7 linked regions of the Homo sapiens genome follow. The protein of the gene in region 4 purifies or fractionates together with the protein of the main gene of each other region. This does not show direct contact. Each region holds a gene or a part of one and is shown on either strand. Other genes may lie near its edges. The genes, in order: PRDX4, NPLOC4, ANKRD22, ARMC9, EIF4B, CEP290 and KRT9.

What was found.
Region 1: the proteins of ARMC9 (region 4) and PRDX4 purify together in Homo sapiens (co-immunoprecipitation; one large-scale study listed by IntAct). This does not show direct contact.
Region 2: the proteins of ARMC9 (region 4) and NPLOC4 fractionate together in Homo sapiens (co-fractionation; one large-scale study listed by BioGRID). This does not show direct contact.
Region 3: the proteins of ARMC9 (region 4) and ANKRD22 purify together in Homo sapiens (co-immunoprecipitation; one large-scale study listed by IntAct). This does not show direct contact.
Region 5: the proteins of ARMC9 (region 4) and EIF4B purify together in Homo sapiens (co-immunoprecipitation; one large-scale study listed by IntAct). This does not show direct contact.
Region 6: the proteins of ARMC9 (region 4) and CEP290 purify together in Homo sapiens (co-immunoprecipitation; one large-scale study listed by IntAct). This does not show direct contact.
Region 7: the proteins of ARMC9 (region 4) and KRT9 purify together in Homo sapiens (co-immunoprecipitation; one large-scale study listed by IntAct). This does not show direct contact.

What each region holds. Positions count from the first base shown.
Region 1 is NC_000023.11:23,673,993-23,677,492, forward strand, and holds part of PRDX4 (peroxiredoxin-4 precursor), read left to right. Parts: intron 1-997; coding exon 998-1,114; intron 1,115-3,500. UniProt on the Homo sapiens protein: Thiol-specific peroxidase that catalyzes the reduction of hydrogen peroxide and organic hydroperoxides to water and alcohols, respectively.
Region 2 is NC_000017.11:81,567,613-81,571,112, forward strand, and holds part of NPLOC4 (nuclear protein localization protein 4 homolog), read right to left. Parts: intron 1,500-3,500; coding exon 1,404-1,499; intron 1-1,403. UniProt on the Homo sapiens protein: The ternary complex containing UFD1, VCP and NPLOC4 binds ubiquitinated proteins and is necessary for the export of misfolded proteins from the ER to the cytoplasm, where they are degraded by the proteasome.
Region 3 is NC_000010.11:88,820,845-88,824,344, reverse strand, and holds part of ANKRD22 (ankyrin repeat domain-containing protein 22), read left to right. Parts: intron 1-966; coding exon 967-1,065; intron 1,066-1,326; coding exon 1,327-1,404; 3' UTR 1,405-3,500.
Region 4 is NC_000002.12:231,201,631-231,205,130, forward strand, and holds part of ARMC9 (lisH domain-containing protein ARMC9), read left to right. Parts: intron 1-3,500. UniProt on the Homo sapiens protein: Involved in ciliogenesis. It is required for appropriate acetylation and polyglutamylation of ciliary microtubules, and regulation of cilium length. Acts as a positive regulator of hedgehog (Hh)signaling.
Region 5 is NC_000012.12:53,037,456-53,040,085, forward strand, and holds part of EIF4B (eukaryotic translation initiation factor 4B), read left to right. Parts: coding exon 1-167; intron 168-900; coding exon 901-956; intron 957-1,782; coding exon 1,783-1,888; intron 1,889-2,174; coding exon 2,175-2,247; intron 2,248-2,630. UniProt on the Homo sapiens protein: Required for the binding of mRNA to ribosomes. Functions in close association with EIF4-F and EIF4-A. Binds near the 5'-terminal cap of mRNA in presence of EIF-4F and ATP.
Region 6 is NC_000012.12:88,132,089-88,135,588, reverse strand, and holds part of CEP290 (centrosomal protein of 290 kDa), read left to right. Parts: intron 1-3,500. UniProt on the Homo sapiens protein: Involved in early and late steps in cilia formation. Its association with CCP110 is required for inhibition of primary cilia formation by CCP110.
Region 7 is NC_000017.11:41,569,260-41,573,457, reverse strand, and holds the start of KRT9 (keratin, type I cytoskeletal 9), read left to right. Parts: upstream 1-1,398; 5' UTR 1,399-1,465; coding exon 1,466-2,107; intron 2,108-3,237; coding exon 3,238-3,320; intron 3,321-3,442; coding exon 3,443-3,599; intron 3,600-3,870; coding exon 3,871-4,032; intron 4,033-4,198. UniProt on the Homo sapiens protein: May serve an important special function either in the mature palmar and plantar skin tissue or in the morphogenetic program of the formation of these tissues. Plays a role in keratin filament assembly.

The sequences.
Region 1 (3,500 bases), on a different chromosome or scaffold from region 4:
GTAGGAAATACATTTTTCGTTGTCAGCCAGTACACAGGCACATATATATACGGTAACATTCCATCTGGATGCACCAGCACAGCCATGCTCCTTAAAATACTGAAAAACCCTCATATCATGTGGTAAATAGCCACTTCCCTTTCCTCACCAACTAGTTAGTCCTCCTGCCTGATCCCTTTCAGAAACCTCCAGAACTAAAGCCAGCTTTGAGTTAAGATTGTTAAATATTTTGAATATCATCACTGTTGAAGACAAACATATATATTTGTATATATAAATATGTGTTTCATAATTTACCCTTAGTATGTATGATAGAGTCTCCTGTTTTCTATTCGATTTCACTTTTTAAAAATATTTTTTAGAACTCAGTTAATTTAAGGAGTCCCTACCACGGTTTGAAAAAATGCCACCCTAGTAATATTCTGTAAACATGGCCTGACAACATGAGGGTATTAAGGTATAAAATCCCTGGCTGCACAGGACTGGTAGACAAGGTGGAAGAGGACCTTATCAAGAAAGGAGGGGTGGGGGTACTGGAAAACATTGCCTCCTCTCCAAAATACACATAGATGCATCTAATTCATAGGGTTGGTATAGGAATATTAAAAAAAAAATAGTGAAATGACATAAAATTTGTATAGATCCTTTGAAAGCTATAAAATACTATATAAATAAAAGGTATTATTAAATAAAAGTAATAAAATGAGGGGTGGCTATTGCTATAAGGGAGAAGGGAACATTGGTTGACTACTGATCTATTAAGTTGTAATAAGAAAGTTTATTGAGATGTAGTTGGGAACTCTGTAATATGTTTCTGTCTTAAATATTTGATTAAATGACAGTCTTTTAGACTACTCCATTTTGAAAAGGTTCAAATATAAAATTGTTCTTAATGTGCATTTTTATTATTAAAGGTATTTGTAAAAATTGTCATTTGAAAGTTTAGGTATATGCTTATTTGGAGAATACTGAATATTTTTTTTTTTTTACCTTTCAGCACATTTGTGTGTCCAACTGAAATTATCGCTTTTGGCGACAGACTTGAAGAATTCAGATCTATAAATACTGAAGTGGTAGCATGCTCTGTTGATTCACAGTTTACCCATTTGGCCTGGTCAGTATCTTACACTTATATTCGTAGAAAAAAAAGAATGGATTTACTCTTAAAGCATGGACAGATAACTCTTGATATGATATAAGAATATAGTCATTTATCAGACAATTCAGGAATAGCTTTATCTAAGAGTAATACATGTAACTACACATTTTCCAGGTTAAAAAAAGAGAGAAGAGTAATATAATCAGCTGCTATAATAAAAATGCTTAAGGATTTTATAGGACATTTCAAAATAAGGGGAAAAGTTAAATGCAATAGATGTGATTTCTATAGCGAAAACCACTGAATTATATGCTTATGATAAATTGGGTTACCATAATCTGGAGGAAAAAAATCTTTAAAATATGCCATTTCTCTGTTACACAGTTATATAGTCAAACTCAGCTTTTACAATTTTGAAGAAACAATACTTTTTAAAAATGAATTTTAAAAAATGTTTAAAAATTCATTAATCATAAAAAGATGTTTTACCTAAATTCGTTATAAAGAATTGCAAATTAAAATGACGAGATGCCAATTTTCCCTGTCTGGTTGGCCAAGATTTAAAAGATTGAAAAAATGTATCCACTGTGGACAAAAATTGAAGAAACGGCACTCACACACAGCTGTTTAGCATTTCTGGAGAGCAGTTGGGCAACATGTCTCAAAATTGGAAATTTACATGTTAATATGAGTTTTTATAGTGTCCACAGTCTTGTGCAGAAAACTTTGTGCACAATAAAGACCATTCAGAATTGGGCTGGGCACAGTGGCTCATGCCTCTAATCCCAGCACTTTGGGAGGCCGAGGCAGGCAGATCACCTGAGGTCGGGAGTTCGAGACCAGCCTGACCAACATGGAGAAACCCCGTCTCTACTAAAAATACAAAATTAGCCAGGCGTGGTAGCAGGTGCCTGTAATCCCAGCAACTCAGGAGGCTGAGGCAGGAGAATCACTTGAACCCAGGAGGTGGAGGTTGCAGTGAGCCGAGGTCACGCCATTGCACTCCAGCCTGGGCAACTGGGCAATGAGAGTGAAACTCCATCTCAAAAAAAAAAAAAAAAAAAAAAAAAAAAAAAGATTCAGAACTATTGGTTTTAAAACATAATATTCAATTTATTAAAGTTACAAATTTGAAACACAAGCTTTTCTCATTTATAATCTGTGTGTGTATAACAAATTTTCATTGCTTGGTGAGCTACAATTTAATTAATTACATTTCCCTAAGAAATTAATTCCCATAAGTATTTTTAAATGCAGTTATATATTTAATATATTTGAATTCCTTAAGTATCTCAATTTTCAGACAAACCTTCCCAAATACTTAAGTAGTTCTAATATGCCAAATTCTCTTAAACATTATAAATAACTTAACATATAAATATGTACTGATTATTTCTTAATGTAAAAATATTAAAATAGCCTGGCATGGTGGCTCACGCCTATAATCCCAGCACTTTGGGAGGTCAAAGCAGGAGAATCATTTCAACCCAGGAGTTCAAGACCAGCCTGGGCAACATAGTGAGACCCCATCTATACAAAAAATAAAAAAAATTAGCCAGGTCTGGTGGTGCATGCCTGTGGTCCCAGCTACTCGGGAGCCTGAGATGGAAGGATGACCTGAGCCTAGGTGGTCGAGGCTGTAGTGAGCCAAGATCATACCACTGCACTTCAGCCTGGGCAATAGAGTGAGATCCTGTCTCAAAAAAAAAAAAAAAATTAAAATATAGGCTTAATTTGCTTCATCATTTCCTTTAAAAAAAGAAAGACAGGGTCTTACTATGTTGCCCAGGCTGGAGTGCAGTGGCACAATCAATCATAGCTCCCTGCAGCCTTGAACTCCTGGGCTCCAACAATCCTTCTACCTCCCCAAATAGTTGGGACTGCAAGCTTGCACCACCATACCTATTTTAATTTTTATTTTTGTAGAGATGGAGTCTTGCCATGTTGCCCGGGCTGTGCTTCATCACTTCTGTAGTAATTATAAATCTTCCGAGGATTAAAATGCATATCCACTAAGGAAAAAGTTATGGCATCCCAAATAATTTGGGATTGCTTTCCCAAGGAAATTTGGGGATACATTCTCAGCCTGATAGGGTTCACATCAACCAGAAATTTCTACTTGGGTGTCAGAACTGGGGCTCCAGATATCTAGAGCAATGTCGTTTTGTTTTCTATCTGCTGTGTCAGTACCCTCCTGTTAGAGCATCAGCCCATGTCTCCTGGTTTCAAGTTACAGAATACAGATTGAGCGTCCCTAACCTGAAATCCACAGTGTTCCAAAATTCAAAATTTGAGTGCTGACATGATGCTCAAAGGAAATGCTTAGTGAAGCATTTCAGAGTTCAGATTAGGGATGTTCAACCAGTAAGTATGCAGATATACCAAAATCGGAAAAAATCCT
Region 2 (3,500 bases), on a different chromosome or scaffold from region 4:
GACGCAACTCAATACACTGAATGCTGAGACACCTCTCCCTCTGCCTCTGCAACCACGAACAGGGTCCAAGAAAGAGGAGCAGGCAGCTGCAAAGCAAGCTCTTGCTCTCTTCTCCCAAGAAGATGCTCTCAGCACACCTGACTACCCAGATGTGCAAGGAGACATGCTTATAAAGCTGACTCAGACTGGCCAGGTGTGGAGGCTAACACAGTAATTCCAGCACTTTTTAGGAGGCCGAGGCAGGCAGGTGGTCAGGAGTTCGAGACCAGTCTGGCCAACATGGCGAAACCCCGTCTCTACTAAAAATACAAAAAAAATTACCCAGGCTTGGTGGCGCGCACCTATAATCCCAGCTACTCAGGAGGCTGAAGCAGAAGAATCGCTTGAACCCAGGAGGTGGAGGTTGTAGTGAGCCAAGATCGCACCACTGCACTCCAGCCTGGGTGATAGAGTGAGACTCTGTCTTCCAAAAAAAAAAAAAAAAAAAAAAAAAGGCTGACTCAGACAGAGACACAAACATGGAAATGCGCCCTGGTCCCCCGGTGGAGAGTGGGCTGCGGGAGGGGCCTGGGGCCCCCTTCACGGCAGGGAGACAGGTCTGACTTTTCCTGTCGAGCTGTATTCTCCATCTAGGGCAGCAAGAGGGAGGAATGTGCAGGGCAGCCGTGATGCAGCACGGACATCTTCAGCAGAACCAAACACAGAGCTTCAAGAGTGCACCCCAATAACTGGCTTTGCACCTCTGTGAGCACCCCAAGTCCCCTGGGCGGATGGGCACTGAGGGGATCAAAGCATAGAAGAAGCTTTGTCAGCCACTGAAGAAAACCTCATTATAGACATTCTTTGACCACCTTCTGAAATGTCTGTTAGCAAGTTATGATTTAAGAACAACCATGTGTACACAGCCTGTCTACACAGTATGCAGGCGTGACAGCAAATCGGACCTGGCCTGATCTGCCAGTGAGAGCAGAGGCCAACACGGGAGCCACGCTAAGCAGCAGATCAACACTACACACGGGAAAGCCGAGGCCAGGCCGAGAGGGGCCACACAGCCCCAAGGTGCCTAAGAAGGGCAGCAGGTGACCAGGCAGGGGCCAGGCCAAACCAACAGTGACGAGGCTGCTGGCAGAAGACACAAAGCAACACATTTGGGAAAATTACGAGGTCCACTGAAGATGTGGCCAGTCAGGACGTCAGGGGATTAGCCTTTGTGGCCGTCCATCACCTAGCCATGGGAAGGGCGTCCACGTGACCAGCAGTGCCCCACAGTAGGCCCTAGCTGGCCTGTCACAAGAATGAATCGGGAGCATTTGAAAGCTTGATGTTTTCTGGAAAAACAATACTGACACTAGATAACAATCAGCAGTTACCTTAAATTATGTTTCTAAAGACAAAGAGCTCACCTGTGTCTCACCCAATACATCCCGGTTTTCAATAGGAAATGGATTTTGCGAAATAGAAAAAGTGTAAACTGGATCCTTGGGGAAAGTTGTTGTGATCTAATGAAGAAAAACACAAACCCATGATAAATGAGGCTGAAAATGGTGTGGCCGACTCCCAGCCAGCCCAGAGCATCTCCCAGAGCCCAAATTAACGACTCCTAGCAATTCTGAGAATGTTCTACAAGCTCTCCATCAAAGGGAACCGTTATCTATTAGTGTCATCTCTAAACGAACACTTGGAAACTCCGCCATCCTGGAGACAAACTACACCATATCCGGGCAGCCTCCGGCCTGTGCACCGGCCTCGACGTCGGACAAAAAGGGCACTGGGACTCCCCTCGTGGCACAGCTTCCCTTCAGAGTCACACAGGTTCTCTCCCTCTGCTATGGAGGAACGAAAGGCTGGTTTGGCCCCTTGGCCAGGTGACAGGAAAGGAACGGAAGGGCCAGGAGGCCGCCCCAGGAGCTGACTTTGCTCAAGAGAGATTCGTGTCATTGGATTCGGAGGGCAAATGAGCAATCAGCCAGCTTTCAAGACACAAAGCACCCTTCAGCAGCTCACTAAGCCCCTTCTGAATGCTGGGAGCCACTCCACGGAGCTGTGGGCTTTTCCAGGCAGGGGTGAATGTAAGGCCCTTGAGGAACACAGGGTTCAGCTCTTCTCTCTCCCTCAGAGCTGATACCCAAAGGCCAGCTAAGTCCTTCAGTCCTTCACTGGCTCAGACAGGCCTTAATGACAACAGAGGGCACTTTGCACCTAAGATATAATCAATAGATGCTACAGGGACAGTGGTAAATGTGCAAGAATCAATAGAAATACCACTTTTATTCTTCGTGACAGACACCCCTCCCCAAAGCAGCACCGAGTTGAGTTGATGCTGCTTTTCTCTGCAACACAACAGCAGCAGCAGAGGTCACACCTCTTCCAGATTTAGGGGAACTATTCTGGTTCCTTTGGGACTATTTCTAAAGAATGAGTGTGGTTCTGGTCTGTTTTCTGCATCAGCAAAGGCAGTGAGTTGTTGAGCTAGCTGGCCCAGGATTTGCTGTGCCAGCGCCAGCCGCTGTGGAAGGACAGCTGAGCCACCAGCAGCATCTCTGGCCTGAGCTGGCCCTTCATGGGCAAGCGGCGGGGTGGGTCATGAAGACTCGGGCCGCGGTGCCACGTGTCGGCTACATGGCCTCGTCAGTTAGGGATCCTGGGCCTCACTTTACTCTTCCTCAGGATGAAGATGATCGGAGTACTCGCCTCCTGGGTGCCCAGCACGGGGCTGGTACACATAGTGTTGGTACACACAGTGCTGGGTCCCAGCTGAAGACAGGGGAGGTGCTGACCTCCTGCAGAGACAAAAGCCTGGCCTGCTCAGGCGCGTCCCTTGGGAAGGCCTAGAAATGAAGAAGGCGGCACCCCCAGAACACGTGCTAGTGAGTGAGCTAGTGGGACTGACGGGGGCTCTTGCTGGCCTTGTAACTGGCCCTTGGAGGGGAACAGAACCAAAGTCCACACAGCCCATCCCAGATGTCCCAAGGAAGGGCATCAGCTCCCATCTTACACTGAAGCCATTTCCCTACCCTACCCATCGTCTATCAGCCAGATGATGCCCCCAGAACCCACAAAGAAACCCCAGTAACACTGGCTGGTGCCTTTTCCTGCCTGCCCAGCCATCCCATCCCAAGGTTTAAGAACCTTGGCTGAGGCCAGCGCCTGTGGCCCAGGGCTGGGCATGGAGCTTGACACACCTCTCTGGGCACCTGCTCTCAAGGACTCCCCATGCCTCACTTCCACAGGGTCAAGGAGCCTGGGCATCACAGAGCAGAATGCTCTCCCACAAACAAGTACTTCTGAAAAACTGCACTAAGGCAAAAACTTAACTTCCTTTATAAAAGAAGAGGAAAGAAGTGGGGAGGCTGCTTGGGGTAGAAGACCTGAGAAAGCTGGTTTTAAATCATGCCTGCTCCTCCTGGGTGCATGCTCCATCAATCTGTTTTCATCTTAATTACACCCTAGGTAGTCTAAAAACCAGATGCCTTCACGGCCTAGGTAATAAATATGTTCTC
Region 3 (3,500 bases), on a different chromosome or scaffold from region 4:
GGTACTATTTCTTCACTCACCAGCACCATGGTTGCTTGGCTACTTTTCCAAAGGCCAAATTTTGGACACTAATGCCCTAGCTATAATTTTTTTGACCTGTAGTGTTTTAAATTAGTACCAACAGAGTAGATGCACTAGCTTATAACACATAATATAAGCTATAACAAATCACGTTTGGGAAATGTCTCTGTAGAACTGCACTGATCTTGCAGGTGTCCTGCAGCAAGAGCACCCGACTTCTTCAGTAGGAATCATCACCAAAACCATAGAGGATAATGTTTATGTAAAGGGCCATGTGGAGACTCTTTAAGGGAAAGATGGTGACATGATCAAGGTGATGATCACCGAGGCATATAGCATGCGACAAAGAAACTTTGGCACAATTCAGCATCAGCTTTTTTAAGTTGCATTCTTTAGAACAGAAAATGGAAAACAAAAAGGCAGAGATTGATGGCTTATATGACACTAACATACATATACATTGAGACAGAGAAGAAATTTTTTTTTTTTTTTTTTTGAGACGGAGTCTCGCTCTGTCGCCCAGGCTGGAGCGCAGTGGCGCAATCTCGGCTCACTGCAAGCTCCGCCTCCCGGGTTCGAGCCATTCTCCTGCCTCAGCCTCCGGAGTAGCTGGGACTACAGGCACCCGCCACCGCGCCCGGCTAATTTTTTGTATCTTTTAGTAGAGACAGGGTTTCACCGTGTTAGCCAGGACGGTCTCGATCCTCTGACCTCGTGATCCGCCCGCCTCGGCCTCCCAAAGTGCTGGGATTACAGGCGTGAGCCACCGCGCCCGGCGAAAAATTTTTTAAGTACTAGAAATAGTTGTCTATCAATGGTTTGCAGACTATTTTTCTGCTTAGTTGTATACTACAAAGTGTGAAAAGGATTTGCCAATGAAGCCACATGCTATGGTCTGTGGAGGGCCCGACTTATGAGCTGAAGTTTTGGCCCTTTGTGTTTCAGTATGGCTGTACCGCATTACATTATGCCTGTGAAATGAAAAACCAGTCTCTTATCCCTCTGCTCTTGGAAGCCCGTGCAGACCCCACAATAAAGAATAAGGTAAGGGAGGGTGGACCGTGGTCTGAGGTTCCTCTAGCAGCAGCATCTTCTAATCTAGGCCTTATGTTGAAGTAAATTATTTGCCTCTGACGTAAACAACAGTAAAATTAATCATCCTCATTAAGGAATGAAGTTATCCTATTACTATTAGGACTGATTGCCTTTTAAAGCCCTTGCCAACACAGAGAGTCAATTGGTCTAAGCTACGTACGAGATCTTGGGCACTCTATTGGAAATAACTGTATATTTTTCCCCCCTCAGCATGGTGAGAGCTCACTGGATATTGCACGGAGATTAAAATTTTCCCAGATTGAATTAATGCTAAGGAAAGCATTGTAATCCTTGTGACCACACCGATGGAGATACAGAAAAAGTTAACGACTGGATTCTATCTTCATTTTAGACTTTTGGTCTGTGGGCCATTTAACCTGGATGCCACCATTTTATGGGGATAATGATGCTTACCATGGTTAATGTTTTGGAAGAGCTTTTTATTTATAGCATTGTTTACTCAGTCAAGTTCACCATGGCCGTAATCCTTCTAAGGGAAACACTAAAGTTGTTGTAGTCTCCACTTCAGTCAGAAACTGATGTTTCAGCTAGGCACAGTGGTACATGCCTGTAATCCCAGCTACTTGGGAGGCTGAGGTGGGAGGATCACTTGAACTCAGGAGTTTGAGAGCAGCCAGGGCAACACAGCGAGACCCTGTCTCAAAAAAAAAAAAAAAAAAAAAAGCCCTGGTGTTCCAAACTCAGTCTTTCCTGAAGAAGAGGATCTGAGTTATCTTCTGAAACAGCGTTCTCCCTTCCCAGTTGTATCACTCTTATAAAAAGACTGTCCAGTCTATGTCATGCCCTAGGAGACAAACTGTTCCTCCCAGCCCCCTTTGAGTATTGAGCAGAAGAATCAAATTATTAAATACGTATGTTTGTACAGAATGGTATTTGTGTATGTGTGTGGGCTTAGAGATTCACAAGTAAATATTCCTTTGGTGAAGGAATTTCAATAAAAACATCTATCAAGTGTCAGCGGTGAGTGTGTTTACACCACAGAAATTGGCAAATTGACAAATCAGAGTTTGTTTTTGTTTTTTTGTTTTTTACTTTCCATAAAGTTCGTTTACCAGCATACCACTAGAGATTTCGGTTTACAAATAAAAGCCATCTTGGTTTGAGCAAGACTATGCAACTATGAAAATGTTCGTTTAAAAAAATCTTCATGATCCTTTTGTAAATACAAGGTGGTTGCCAAGCTTGTTAGTTTTGTTTATTTTATTGATAGATGTAAAATATTATTGTAACTTATTTGGATAAAGTTCTTCAAAAGAAACAGAGCTATACAATGAGGTAGGATCTGGATTATTTGTCTAAGTGAGAGATTGCGAATATCAAAATATCTGTCTCACTTCTTCTGTGAATGACACAGAGTAGAAATAAATTCACTTTAAAAATATGACTGAATTTTGAAAATCAAGACTGAATCTCACATAGCTGCAGACAGGAACTAAGCCAGCCTCTTTGTATGTGGTAACAAGTACAGTATAAGAATGAAAGATTTACCATCCTTGAAAGCTCTAATGAAAATCAAATCCAGCAATATATATTCAACTGTGTACAGGATTTAAGAAACTTATTTTATGAAGGAAGTAATAGTGTGTAGATATAGATTCTGAAGTCTTTAAACGTGTCTTAATAAATTAAGATTCACTGGCATTGAGCTGAGCTACCAGGTGACCCTTGGGGACAAAAAACCCACACAAGTGAATTTCACACACCAGTATACCTTCAACAATATACTTTTGACACACACAAACCTTTGATTTGGTTTCAGAGATTTTGCAAAATAGTACCAATGTAATTTACAACTGTCATCTTTGAAATTGTGTAAAAGTGGAATAATTTTCTGAAGAAATAAATCATGGTTTGTCAATGAGTTGCAGAGACTGTCTGACATTAACTTTGTCAAGATTAAAGGATAAAGTATATGACAATTTGTTTCATCATGCTCATGACATTATGCAATTTTCTCCCTAGCTTTTAATTTTTGGAGGCAGAAAATTGAGCCAGAAATTTTTAGTCATTAGGTCTCCTAGCAACAAGCTGTAAACCTTCCAACAAGCTTGGACTAGAATCTAGACACTGAAATGCACATACATGCTTTATGTAATGCAGAATGCATTTATTGGAGAACTCATAAACATCCTATAAAATTTTCTTCCCTGAGATGCAACTATAAAACTTGGCCTTATTCTGAGAATGCTTAACATAGATTTCATCCATACTGTAACACTGATTTTGTTGTTGTTGTCCTTAAAGCAGCTCAGCTTCCTGAGGTAGTGTTATGTCTCTGTGGCAACAAGGTGAAAATGTCTAGCTTATTTTGTCAAAGTCAACAATAATCCACAGACTCCAGACCTCAATATCTGTCCCAATTT
Region 4 (3,500 bases):
AGACCCCACTGCTTCCTCACTGCTCTGCAGCCGCCTTATGTGTGTTCCCCTCCCCCATTCTTAACCTGATTAGTTCCAGTGTCCCATCGTGGTTGTACTGTTTTCCCTTTCCTCTCTCTTCTAGAAGAACCTCTCACATTGGTTAACCTAACTCAGATAGCTGAAAGTGCCTGGAGAAGAGCTGCAAAACTGTGCAGACTGATTCCATTTTAGATTCAAGTGCAGAGATCTTAAATGGACTATAATACCAGCAACCCTGCCATGTTGCTGTAGTCGCTTTGGTTCCCACCCTCCCTTCCGTTCCCACTCTCCCTTCTCTTCGAACTGTCACCATGCTTCTTACTTGCAGCCGATGACCTTTTTTCTTTCTTTCTTTTTTTTTTTTTTTTGACAGAGTCTCACTCTGTTGCCCAGGATGGAGTGCAATGGCACGATCTCGGCTCATTGCAACCTCCACTTCCTGGGTTCAAGCGATTCTCCTGCCTCAGCTTCCAGAGTAGCTGGGATTACAGGTGCCTGCCACCACACCCGGCTAATTTTTGTATTTTTAGTAGAGATGGGGTTTTACCATGCTGGTCAGGCTGGTCTTGAACTCCCAGCATCAGGCGATCTGCCTGCCTTGGCCTCCCAAAGTGCTGGGATTACAGGCGTGAGCCACCGTGCCCAGCTGATCTTGTTTCTTGTTTCACTTTTTTTTTTTTTTTTTTTTTGAGACAGGGTCTTACTTTGTCACCTAGGCTGGAGTGCCATGGCGTGATCCCGGCTCACTACAGCCTTGACCTTCCTGGTTCAAGTGATCCTCCTGTCTCATCCTCCCCAGTAGCTGGGATTACAGGCACACACCACCACACCCAGCTAATTTTTGTATTTCTGTAGAGATGAGGTTTCACCACGTTGCCCAGGCTGGTCTCGAACTCATGAGCTCAAGTGATCTGCCTGCCTTGGTGTCCCAAAGTGCCAAGATTACAGGTGTGAGCCACTGCACCCAGCCTGTTTCACTTCTAATCACTAAATCTGTGTCTTTGCTCAGCACCCATATTCTCTGCTATCCCTCTGAATGCCGTTCCTGCTTCTCCCTTAAACTCCAGGCTCATATATCTGTAAGAATTAAAGAAAGAGGAGAGAAACACGAAGGGTGACTTGACAGTCAACAGGTTTGTTTCCTGGGTAACGGCCAAACTTCACCCTCTTACAATGGGCCTCAGTATAACAGTGGGCCTTAATAAGGACATTCTGTTCCCTTCAGGTGCACTAAGGGAAGCTAAAAGCAGACTTGGGGGGTATGCCTGCAGCTGCAGAAAGTTGTATAGGAACAGACACACAACTCTCCCTCCCAGATAAGCACAACAGAGAGACACAGAAACAGTTCAAGCCTTTGATAAACTCTCCCACCCTGAATCCTTAAAAACTCTTAGTCTGTAGGAGAGTGTGGCTCTGACCTAACTCGGTCGGAAGTCCCTCCCAGGTTTGAAATAAACCTGTTGACTGTCGAGCCACCCTTCGTGTTTCTCTCCTCTCTCCTCTTTCTTTGGTTCTTACAATACCCACTGACCATTTCGGAACCTCCACTGGAATGTCTAACAGGCAGCTCAGACTTATAGCCAAAACAGAGCTCTTGGTTTGACCTCAAAACAGTCCTTCCCCAGGTTTTCGTTGACTCAGCAAATCACATACTCTTCGGCCAGCTGCTCAGATCCCAGGGTTCTTCCTTCCCTTCTTCCCCTCATGTCCCACAACTAACTGGTCTGCAGATTGTGCCTCTTCTGCCTTTTCCATCTGGACTCACAGCGCTCATGGCCCCTCTTGCTTATCCAAATGATGCTCATGGCTGGCGTGGCCTGAGCAGTACTCATCTCCCTCTTCCCACTCCCCTCCAGTCTTCTCTGTAGAGCAGGCAACATGCATATTAAAAAATGGACATCAGCAGCCGGGCGTGGTGGCTCACCCCTGTAATCCCAGCACTTTGGGAGGCAGAGGAGGGAGGATTGAGCCCAGGAGTTCAAGACCAGCCTGAGCAATGGTGAAATCCTGTCTCTGAAAAAACCAAGGCTGGGCGTGGTGGCTCATGCCTGTAATCCCAGCACTTTGGGAGGCCGAGGCAGGTGGATCACCTGAGGTCAGGAGTTCGAGACCAGCCTGGCCAACGTGGTAAAACCCCGTCTCTACTAAAAATACAAAAATTAGCTAGGCATGGTGGCGGGTGCCTGTAATCCCAGCTACTCGGGAGGCTGAAGCAGGAGAATTGCTGGAACCCCGGAGGTGGAGGTTGCAGTGAGCCAAGATTGTGCCATTCTACTCCAGCCCAAGCAACAACAGCGAGACTCTGTCTCAAAAACAAACAAACAAAAAAAAACCTCACCAAAAACCAAACAAATGAAAAAACCAGAAAACAAAAGACTTGGGGCATAGTGGCACACTCTGTAGGCCCAGCTACTCAGGAGGCTGAGGTGGGAGGACTGCTTGAGTCCAGGAGTTTGAGGCTGCAGTGAGCTATGATCATGTCACTGCACTCTAGCCTGGGCAACAGAGGGAAACTCTGTCTCAGGAAAAAAAAAAAAAAAAAAAAAGGACATCAGTGGTGTCAGTCCCCTCCTCCATACTCTCTCTGAGCCTCCTGTTACTGTCAGCCTAATGTCCAAGCCACTTACCAGCTCTGTAAGGCCCACCTGACCTGGCCCCGGCCCCCCATTGCCTGCTGCTGTCTGCCTCACCCCTAGCTACATCCCAATACCCCAAGACTGCAGAGCTCTTCAGCCTGAGGCCTGTGCACTAACAAAGCCATCTTCCCCAGATCCAGGTGCTCAATCTTTGCTGAAATGTCACATTCCCAGTGAGGCCATCAACCACTCTATCTAAAATAACCCCATACCCGTCTCCTTCAGGTTCTGTCCCTTTCCTTGCGCTGTTTTCTTCATGTCTGGAATCAATTTCCACTCCGTCCATGTTTTTGAGCCTGTACTGTGTGCCAGGCACTGGTCTAGGCACAGGGGAACACCTGTCAGGTGCTGTTGAGAAAAATCAAGCAGTACAAAGGGCTGAGAAGTGATGGGCCGACCTCTTAGAAAGGGTGGTCAGGGCAAGACTCTCTGAGGAGGTGACAGTTAGGCAGAGACCTGAATGAGACGTATCTGAAGGAAGGGCAGTGAGCCAGAGTTCACGAGGGCAGGCGTGTGCTTTGGGTGTTCAGTGGGTGTCCACAGGAACCACACAGTGGCCAGTGTGGCTCAGGTTTACAGAACAAATGGGAGTGTGTCAGAGGCCAAGTTGTCTAGGGCTTTGGGAGTTGAGCCTAAGGAGCCTGGCCTTCATCTGGAGGGCGCTGGAACCACAGGAGGGTCCCAAGCAGGAGGGGAATGCTCACTTGTTAAAAGTGTAGAAATTGGATTGAAGTGGAGAGAAAGGAGGTGGGGAGGCAGTGGCAGAAAAATGTAAGGTTACAGACTCAGAAGAGATCTGACTGAGTGTGGTGGCTCACGCCTATAATCCCAGCATTTTGGGAG
Region 5 (2,630 bases), on a different chromosome or scaffold from region 4:
AATAAGGAGGAAGATTGCCACTCTCCAACTTCTAAACCTCCCAAACCTGATCAGCCCCTAAAGGTAATGCCAGCCCCTCCACCAAAGGAGAATGCTTGGGTGAAGCGAAGTTCTAACCCTCCTGCTCGATCTCAGAGCTCAGACACAGAGCAGCAGTCCCCTACAAGGTGAGTCAGTTTGGAAACAGTAGTTGGTTAACTGCAGATTCTAAAATACTGTGATGTAATGATGGAAGATCTCCTACGGGATGCCAGCGTTGTATAGCACCTTATAAGTTATGCTGGCTTTAGTCTCTTAGTGTGCTGGAACTGGCTCATAAGACCTAGTTGTTCCATTTTCTGGAGTTCCACCACTTTGATAGCTTGAAATCAGCTATGATGGGAGTACTAATGCCGCACAAATCTGCAAATACTGTAAGTCAGAGGCTTCCCTTTTGCCACATATTGGCAGTATGGTAGGGGGTAACTTCCTTTCATTTCTCTTAAGTCTTCTCATTTGTAAGCAAAATAGCAACACTATTAGCCTGGCGTGGTGGCAGGTACCTGTAATCCCAGCTACTCGGGAGGCTGAGGCAGGAGAATTGCTTGAACCTGAGAGCGGAGGTTGCAGTGAGCCGAGATGTGCCATTGCACTCCAGCCTGGGCGACAGAGTTAAGACTCCAAAAGAAAAGAAAATAGCAATACTAATCCTGCATGATGTGATGATTAGAAAGCATATGGCACTTTAGTGTTCAAATTACTGCTTTCATTGTAATCTTTCCCATATTTTAATGTTCCATAACATTGAGTATGATTTTGTTTTCTATAAAGCTTACCCACTGCATTTGGAGGATGATTATGTTTCTTGGTTGTTTTCTCCCTGAAACAACTGATGAATGTGATTACCTGTTTTCCTTCTAGTGGTGGGGGAAAAGTAGCTCCAGCTCAACCATCTGAGGAAGGACCAGGAAGGAAAGGTGAGCTCATAGTATGGGAAATAGGTTTTTCACCTAGAAGCCTAAATAAAAAGGCCTCCAAAATTAGATTTTGAAGAGCAGTGTGTCTCGCACCTGATACCGTGTTAAGAGTTCTTGGGTTGGCCAGGCGCAGGGGCTCACACCTGTAATCCCAGCACTTTGGGAGGCCAAGGCGGGCAGATCACAGGGCAGGAGTTTGAGACCAGCCTTACCAACATGGTGAAACCCCGTCTCTATTAAAAATACAAAAAAAATTAGCCGGGTGTGGTGGCACATGCCTGTAATCCCAGCTACTCGGGAGACGCTGAGGCAGGAGAATTGCTTGAACCCGGGAGACGGAGGTTGCAGTAAGCCAAGATGGCCCCACTGCACTCCAGCCTGGGCGACAGAGCAAGACTCTGTCTCAAAAAAAAAAGAATTATTGGGTTATCTACCTTTTCTTGCCAGTAGAGGGAGGAGTGGCCTCTTTGGAGAAAGTATGAAACCCTGCCCTTTCCTGGTAGAACATTTCTTTGACGGGGAGAAAAAAATCGGAAGGAAATTAACCAAGGTCACTACAGAGCGTCATAATCTTTATTTCCAGCTTGCTTTTCATGATGGCATATCCCTACATGGAACTTTTTAGTGGATTTTGTTTGTTTTTTGTATTTTTGTGTGCTGTAGAGGATGTGGAAAGAAGGGCTTCAGGAAGGAAGTCTGGGTTGGGGTGAGGTTAGTTTCCCTCAGTACATGTGGGCACAATTTTCTTCAGCTTAAGGGAAATCTTAGGAGAGGGACATTGATACTTTTACTTGCCTTTAATTTGTTTACATTACTGCCCAAGCAGATGAAAATAAAGTAGATGGGATGAATGCCCCAAAAGGCCAAACTGGGAACTCTAGCCGTGGTCCAGGCGACGGAGGGAACAGAGACCACTGGAAGGAGTCAGATAGGTATGCTTGTTCTCTTTCTCATCTTTCCTCTGATCCACATGTTTGTGTAATTAAGAAATTAAGTTCTTGGTTCTCAGAGCACTGCCAGATCGCTCATTGTGAGCAAACTAAAGTCAGCCAACGTAGACAGTTAAGATTCTGAAAATCTAGAAGTAATACATCATCCAGACAACAAGGACTGTTGACTAGAGGTGCCTGTTCAGTGCCTTGAAACTGCATGCATACACATGTTTGTATTAGGCGAGTCCTTTCCTAAAGACATGGTTTTATGCTTACGTCTCTGCAGGAAAGATGGCAAAAAGGATCAAGACTCCAGATCTGCACCTGAGCCAAAGAAACCTGAGGAAAATCCAGCTTCCGTAAGTGTTGAAGGCTGCTCCCAATTTTTCATTCTAAGAAAAATTCTTAGAATTCTAAGTATTCTTACTAAGAATTAAAAATTCTTAGTATTCTAAACTTTTTGCCGTTGGACTTCTTTCCATTTGGAATACAAAGTGTTTGGAAATAAGACATTGGTCTTTACTGAAATAGCGAAAGAAGTTTAGCTTTTTCCTGGTTTCTGTCTTCCTTTGTTCTCATCCCTTCTGCAAGGTGTAGAGGTGGTATGAGACTATAGTAAGATCGCATGTGCCTCTGACCCTCTTCCCTAGCTCCTCTCCAATGGACAATGCTGATGAGCAAGCAAGTGGGTGTCATCTGACTGTCATCCCCCATTGCCAAAGGATCAGTATCCTGTGTCTTG
Region 6 (3,500 bases), on a different chromosome or scaffold from region 4:
AATGTGGTAGAGAAAGTATGGATCGATGCCACTTAAATGTTAGGAAGAAGCTCTTAGAGCATTATCTGTTTAGCTAACTGCAAAACATAGCAGACATGTGGATTTTTTAATAGTCATCAAGGATCTAACTTATAATATACACTGGTAGAATTGCTTAGGGGGATGTCTGTGGTTTTCTGGACTTTTGTTCTTCTATATAGACCTGTATCAGTTGACTTATCATTCATACCACACACCCTTAGCTAATCAGAACTACCTTGTCCATTTATATCTTAGACTATTGTCTTTTTTCATAGTCACACACAGAGAAAACTTGAATATATGGCCTGTGTTCCTTTTTGGCTGCTCAATTCCTTGAGATGAAATATGGGTATGGGTTGCTTTGGCAATTACTTCTTTGCCGTTAACCAGTCATTCAGTTTTATTGAGTCTTTACAGCATACCAGAGGCTGCTAGTTACTAGTGATATAGTGGGCAACTATGTTCTGGTTCTCAAGAATATTCATAGTCAATAATAAGCATAACATAGTGATAATATGATACTTAGGGAGATACATAAGGTCATATTCTGGCATACTCTGGAGAGAGATACCGTAATCAGCCTTGAGGTGCAGGATGTGATCTGTAAACTGAGACCTGAAGTATAGTTAGACTGGTAAGAGGAATGAGGATATATATGGTGGTTAATAAAAGAACATTCTGGGTAGAAGATATAGCATTTGCTAAGACCTAGAGGTAAGAGATGTTATGGAGTATTTAGGAAACTACAGTTATTCATTTTGACTGAAATATAAGTGAAAATAGCTTTCATAGAGTCCTTACTATGTGCCAGGCACTTCATATGCATTAATTCATTATTGCTTATTTGATACTTGTCATATGAGATAGTTGTCATTTCTGCCATGATACAGATGAAGAAATGGAGACACAGAAAGAGTAATTGCCCATGGTTGCACAGCTTATAAATGGTAAAGGTAGGATTTGAAAACAGTCTTACTCAAGAGTCTGTGCTATCTTGCCTTCCCAGTTTTATTTTTTATGATCCTCTGGAGAGATAAGCAAGGGCCAGTTCCTAATGAATTTGGTTCTTTTCCTGAAAGGAGCCAGTGAAGAGTTTTGAGCACAGGATATCATGATCAGATCTATACTTTAAAAGTTTACTGTACTTTGTAGAGAGTGGATTGAAAAGGGCCAAGACTAGTAAGGAAACATTTGTGTTAATTCAGGGAAGTGCTAATGATGGCATTTGCCTGAGAAAGACAAGTGTGAGAGAAGTAGATGTAATTGGATGTGGTGAATGTAATTGGTTGTTGGAGGAGAGGGAGGATGGAGAGTCTGCCTAATTTTGTGGGTTGGGCCACTAAATAGGTAGATAGTGCCATTCATTAAGGAGGAACACAAGAGGAATTTGGAAAGCTTGAGATTATTTCAGTTTTGTAGATGTTGAGTTTGAGGTTCTTCTGGGCATATTCAAAAAGGGTATCTGTGGATATGGAATTCACAAGAGACCCTGTACAGATGATGAGGATTTATGAATCATCAATGTAGACATTATTGAAGCCAGAGAAGTGATTGTAAGGCACGTCTCTGAGAAATGTCTAATAAAGCAATGAAATAGGAAGAGTGCTTCAAGGAAAAGCTCAAGAAAGGAGAAACAGAGTGTGATGTTTGAGAAGACAAGGGAAAAAAACATTAATAGCATTAAATGCTTTAGCATTAAGTTCTTGGCTTCTCTTCTTGTAAAAATTTCCCAATTCAGAACACAGTGGGATTATTAACTTTCAATTGATAATAATAATGATAGGCAAACTTCTAAAATTTGTATTGTAGTTTGCATTTTATTATAAACTTTCTTTAAATTTTTATTTTGAAAAATGTCATATCTTCATAAAGATTGTAAGAAACACACTGTTGGTGTTAATGTAAATTAGTTCAACCATTGTGGGAGACAGTGTGGCAATTCCTCGAAGATCTAGAAGCAGAAATACCACTTGACCCAGCAATCCCATTACTGGGTATATACCCAAAAGAATATAAATCATTTTCTTATAAAGATACTTGCACACATATGTTCATTGCAGCACTATTCACAATAGCAAAGACATGGAATCAACCCAAATGCTCATCAATGATAGACTGGATAATGAAAATGTGGAACATATACATCATAGAATACTATGCAGCCATCAAAAGAGAATGAGAGGTCAAGCGTGGTGACTCATGCCTACAGTCCCAGCACTTTGGGAGGCCGAGGCAGGCAGATCACTTGAGGTCAGGAGTTCAAGACCAGCCTGGCCAGTATGGTGAAACCCCATCTCTACAAAAACAAAACAAAACAAACAAAAATTAACTGGTCATGGTACTGTATGCCTGCAGTCCCAGCTACTTGGGAGGCTGAGGCAGGAGAATGACTTGAACCCAGAAGGCAGAGGTTGCAGTGAGCTGAGATCGCACCACTGGACTCTAGCCTTAGCAACAAAACTAGAGTTTGTCTCAAAAAAAAAAAAAAAAAAAAACCGGAACAAGATCATGTCCTTTGCAGGGACATGGGATGGAGGTGGAAGCCATTATCCTCAGCAAACTCACACAGGAACAGAAAACCAAACACTGCATGTTCTCACTTATAAGTGGGAGCTGAACAATGAGAACACATGGACACATGGTGGGGAACAACACACACTGGGACCCGTCAAGGGGTCGGGGTGGGAGAACATCAGGAAGAATAGCTAATGGATGCTGGGCTTAATATCTAGGTTATGGGTTGATCTGTGCAGCAAGCCACCATTGTACACATTTACCTAAGTAACAAACCTGCACATCTTACACATGTACCCCAGAACTTAAAAGTTGATGGGAAAAAGAAAAACAATAACCACCCACATACCCTTCATATAGATTCACCAGTTCTTAATGTTGTGCCAACTTTGCTTTATCTTTTTGTCAGTATTTTTACACACACATGTATTTCTCTGTCTCTTGTTTGTTCAATCACATTTTTTGCTGAGTCATTTAAGAGCTAATTGCAGATATGATACTTTGCACTTAAATATTTCAGCTTGTCTGTTTGAAAAAGAAAGATGTTCTCCTACAATGAACACAATATAATTGTCATGCTCAGGAATTTTAATATTGATTCAACACCATTATCTAGTCCATAATGAGATTTCTTCTAATGGCCCAATAATATCCTTCAGTCTCCCCACCTCCAATATCCAAAGTTCTGTCAAGGATCACATACTACATTTGGTTCTTTATTATAGACTTTTTAAATATCGTTGTATACCATTGTGATTCTATCGTCTCCTTTAATAAAGAGGAGAACCAGAAAAATGAAAGGTCATAAGAGGAATGAGGTTTGGAGAATAGGTGAAAAAAGGCATCATAATGTTTATAATAATGTTTGCCTGTTCAGAGAAACAAGAATCACAGATAAAGTCACTTATATGTAGATAAGAGAATGCTGTATTACTTTTTGCTATTCTATTCACTGATCATTTTTC
Region 7 (4,198 bases), on a different chromosome or scaffold from region 4:
GCATTTGGGAAGCATTGTATGATTTTCTAGGGGGCCTGGGGGATGGTGGGAGATGGGGCAGGAATGGAAAGATGGGGATGGGCCTAAGTGCCAGGAATGTGGACCTTATCTTGAGGGTGGAGGGAAACTGGTGAAGTGATGTTGTCAGACATGGATTAGAAAGGTCATTCTGGCTGCTGTGCAGGAAGAGTCAGAGGGAATGGGAGAGGCAGGGAGGGCAGTTAGAAGCTCATGGCTAAGGTCTGGGTGAGGGCAGAGTTGACGGGGAGTTAGGGGGCTGAATGATCAGAGGCAGCCGAACATTTTTTGAGCACTTCTCACAAGTCTCTTACTAGGAGATGGACAAACTACTCATATCAACCTTTTTCAAAGGAGGAAACTGAGGCACAGAGTATTTAAGTAACTTATCAAAGTCACACAGCTCATGAGCATGGAGCTGGATGGAGCTCAGGTAGGCACACCGGAGACCAGCGTGTTCTTTACCATTCTCTTCTGGCCTTGGTGACCAGAATATACATCCAAGTTTCTGCCAGGAGCAGGGATAAGTCACACATCTCTGTATCCCCTCCAGAGTTCTGTATGGGGTAGGCACTCAACCAAGGTCAATTCCACACTCCCTGCTGGGCCCTGCAAAAGGACCAGGACAGTCGAGCCACTTGCATTCCTGCTCAGAGGTCAGCTAGTGTCAGCACCACCTTGTTTATTTGGTCCACTTTCTTCTTCCAGCCCTTTGTGTGAACTCTGCACGCTGTCCTTTAGTGCTGGCGGGCATGGTCTCGGTGCCCGTCTCCATCTTTTGGCCATGCCAGTTGCCTCCTCATCAAACTGGAGTCTCCCAAGGGCAGAGCCTCAGACTCTGCAGAAAGCCTCGAGGATCCTGAGAGCAAGGATTGGTTTTCATCCATTTGGGGCTCCACAAGGGCAGGGGCTGTGCCTCCCCCTCCTCTATGATAACTCCTTAGTACCCTAGTTCCAGCTCAGCTCACAGTGGGCACAAGGTGGGAGCAAGGAGGCATGAGGGATGCAGACAGTAATGACCATCAATAGAGGAGGTGACTCTGCTCTTGGGAGTTTCTATCCCGAAGGGGCTAAGTCTCAGACCTGCTGTTGGGGCCAGCCAGAGACCAGACTCCAGGATCTAGGTCACCCCTGTGGCAGTACAGCTGATTTATGGTGGCCCTGACAGCCTAATGTCATCAAATTATCCCACACAATGGAGAGAGGCTGGGCCGCCCCCAGGCAGTCACCAAAGGACGCTGAGCCTGGGGCAGCCCGGCTGCCTCCGTATCCCAGACCTCCCTCGGGTCTGTGGGGGGAGGCTGGCACAGAACAAGGGCACACCCAGGCGTGCCACCTTCAGCTGGGGGTATAAGTAGGCAGCCCCAGGGACAGCTCTGTACCCTGCACTTGGGAGCCGGTAGCACTCCTATCACTGCTTCTCAACCCGTGAGCTACCAGCTGTGTCATGAGCTGCAGACAGTTCTCCTCGTCCTACTTGAGCCGCAGCGGCGGGGGTGGCGGGGGCGGCCTGGGCAGCGGGGGCAGCATAAGGTCTTCCTACAGCCGCTTCAGCTCCTCAGGGGGCGGTGGAGGAGGGGGCCGATTCAGCTCTTCTAGTGGCTATGGTGGGGGAAGCTCTCGTGTCTGTGGGAGGGGAGGCGGTGGCAGTTTTGGCTACAGCTACGGCGGAGGATCTGGGGGTGGTTTTAGTGCCAGTAGTTTAGGCGGTGGCTTTGGGGGTGGTTCCAGAGGTTTTGGTGGTGCTTCTGGAGGAGGCTATAGTAGTTCTGGGGGTTTTGGAGGTGGCTTTGGTGGTGGTTCTGGAGGTGGCTTTGGTGGTGGCTATGGGAGTGGGTTTGGGGGGTTTGGGGGCTTTGGAGGTGGTGCTGGAGGAGGTGATGGTGGTATTCTGACTGCTAATGAGAAGAGCACCATGCAGGAACTCAATTCTCGGCTGGCCTCTTACTTGGATAAGGTGCAGGCTCTAGAGGAGGCCAACAACGACCTGGAGAATAAGATCCAGGATTGGTACGACAAGAAGGGACCTGCTGCTATCCAGAAGAACTACTCCCCTTATTATAACACTATTGATGATCTCAAGGACCAGGTAGGTGCAGGAAACTGTCTCTGTCTTGGTCTCTTTCTCTTTCATTCTTTATCTTCCAAAAAAGTTAAAATGCTAAACTCTAAGCTCAGATAATAGCCAGGGAATCCACCTTTTGGAAATGTACGCTTTCATCAGAAACAAACTTGTGTTTGGTTTCTGGGGATCCCAGGATAGGACTTTGGCCTGTGCTCTGAGTGTTCACTTCCATTTCCTCAACTTTCAGAGTTTGGGCAGAGCAGAGAGGAGACCTGGGTTAACGTGAGCTGAGCTGGGACTGGATGTGGAACCTCCTTTAGGTTTGGTCTAAGTCAATACTTTCTCTTCCTTTGTACTTCTCCTGGGCTTCTTTAGGAGTGTATCTTGATCTTTTAAGGTATTTTGGACCTGACTGTACATGTTGGTTATTCAAGTGTTGGAGAGGATCCAGAAATCTGGGAATGGAAGCTATCTATCCATCCATCCTTCCATCTATCCCTTCCTCCCTCCACCCACATGTCTATCTATCTATCCATTTATTCAGCCACTCAGTTCAGTGAGTGCCTACCCTCAGGGTTGCTCTGGGTAGACATAGTGATGTGCTAGACCTAGTTCTGGTGGAGCTCACGGTCTGGCTCTTCAGTATTCTCAGTGATTCCTCTTGTTTTAACTCCTGCATGTCTCTGAATGTGCTGTTTCTTCTACTCTAAACCTCTTCCATTTATTTATTAATGTTACATCTTAGCCATCCTTCAGGGCCCAATTCAATTGCCAGCCACCTCCTTCCTGAAGTCTTTCTTGATCTCCCATTGCCATAAGCCACCTCTCCTTTCCTTGAACTCTTTTAGGACACTTTTGACTTTGTAGTCAATGGTGGGCTCCCTGAGGAACAGGATGTCAGTAATCTCTAAATCCTACAATGCCCTTTGCAGTAGATCTTCAAATATTTGTTGAATGAATGAATGAAGGCCACACCAAACATCTTCGCTGAAGGCTGGAAGGGGTCTGTGCCATGTCCCAGCTGTTGGAAGTTCCTCATTCCTCTTGAGAATCTTCCTGGATGGAATCCTCACCTCCTGTGGCTTTGCCTGGCCTCTTGCCCTCTCAGCAGTGGTCCACAGCATGATATCATGGCTGTGTCCTTTTTTTTTCAGATTGTGGACCTGACAGTGGGCAACAACAAAACTCTCCTGGACATTGACAACACTCGCATGACACTGGATGACTTCAGGATAAAGTGAGTCCTGCTCCTCTTCTCCTCTCCTGTCATCAGCCCTTACCCCTGAACCTCAGTGCTCTGGAGGTCCTGGTAGGGCCTGGTTCCCTCTTGATTGTTTTCTAACCCTGGCTGGTCTGCAGGTTTGAGATGGAGCAAAACCTGCGGCAAGGAGTGGATGCTGACATCAATGGCCTGCGGCAGGTGCTGGACAATCTGACCATGGAGAAGTCTGACCTGGAGATGCAGTATGAGACTCTGCAGGAGGAGCTGATGGCCCTCAAGAAGAATCATAAGGAGGTAGGTTGCTGGGGCTTATGGCTTACCGGGAAGAGGGAGGAGCAGAAATGCAGAGACAGCAGGGGAGCTTTGGAACATTACCTGGGAGACACCCTCTCCTTTGCTCTTGAGGACACTTTCAACTTCTCCTTGGCATCACCTATGGTAGTGGTTGGGCTTTGGCTTCACAACTGTGTCCCCTTTTTGTACCCTGGGGGGACCAGAGGGAGAATTCTGAAAGGTGGTGCAGAGGACTTTATCCGTGACCTCATCTCCCCTTCTTCCCTGGCAGGAGATGAGTCAGCTGACTGGGCAGAACAGTGGAGATGTCAATGTGGAGATAAACGTTGCTCCTGGCAAAGATCTCACCAAGACCCTCAATGACATGCGTCAGGAGTATGAGCAGCTCATTGCTAAGAACAGAAAGGACATCGAGAATCAATATGAGACTCAGGTGAGCAGAGTGGGCTGCCCATTCATCCTCCTCCCCTCCATCTATTCCTATCTCCATCCCTCCCACCTCCCATTCCTTCATCCTCCTATCTCTGCATCTCTCAGTGCAGCTGTCATTTATCCATCTTCCAATGGAAGTCATTCATCCATCTTCATTCACTGCATAC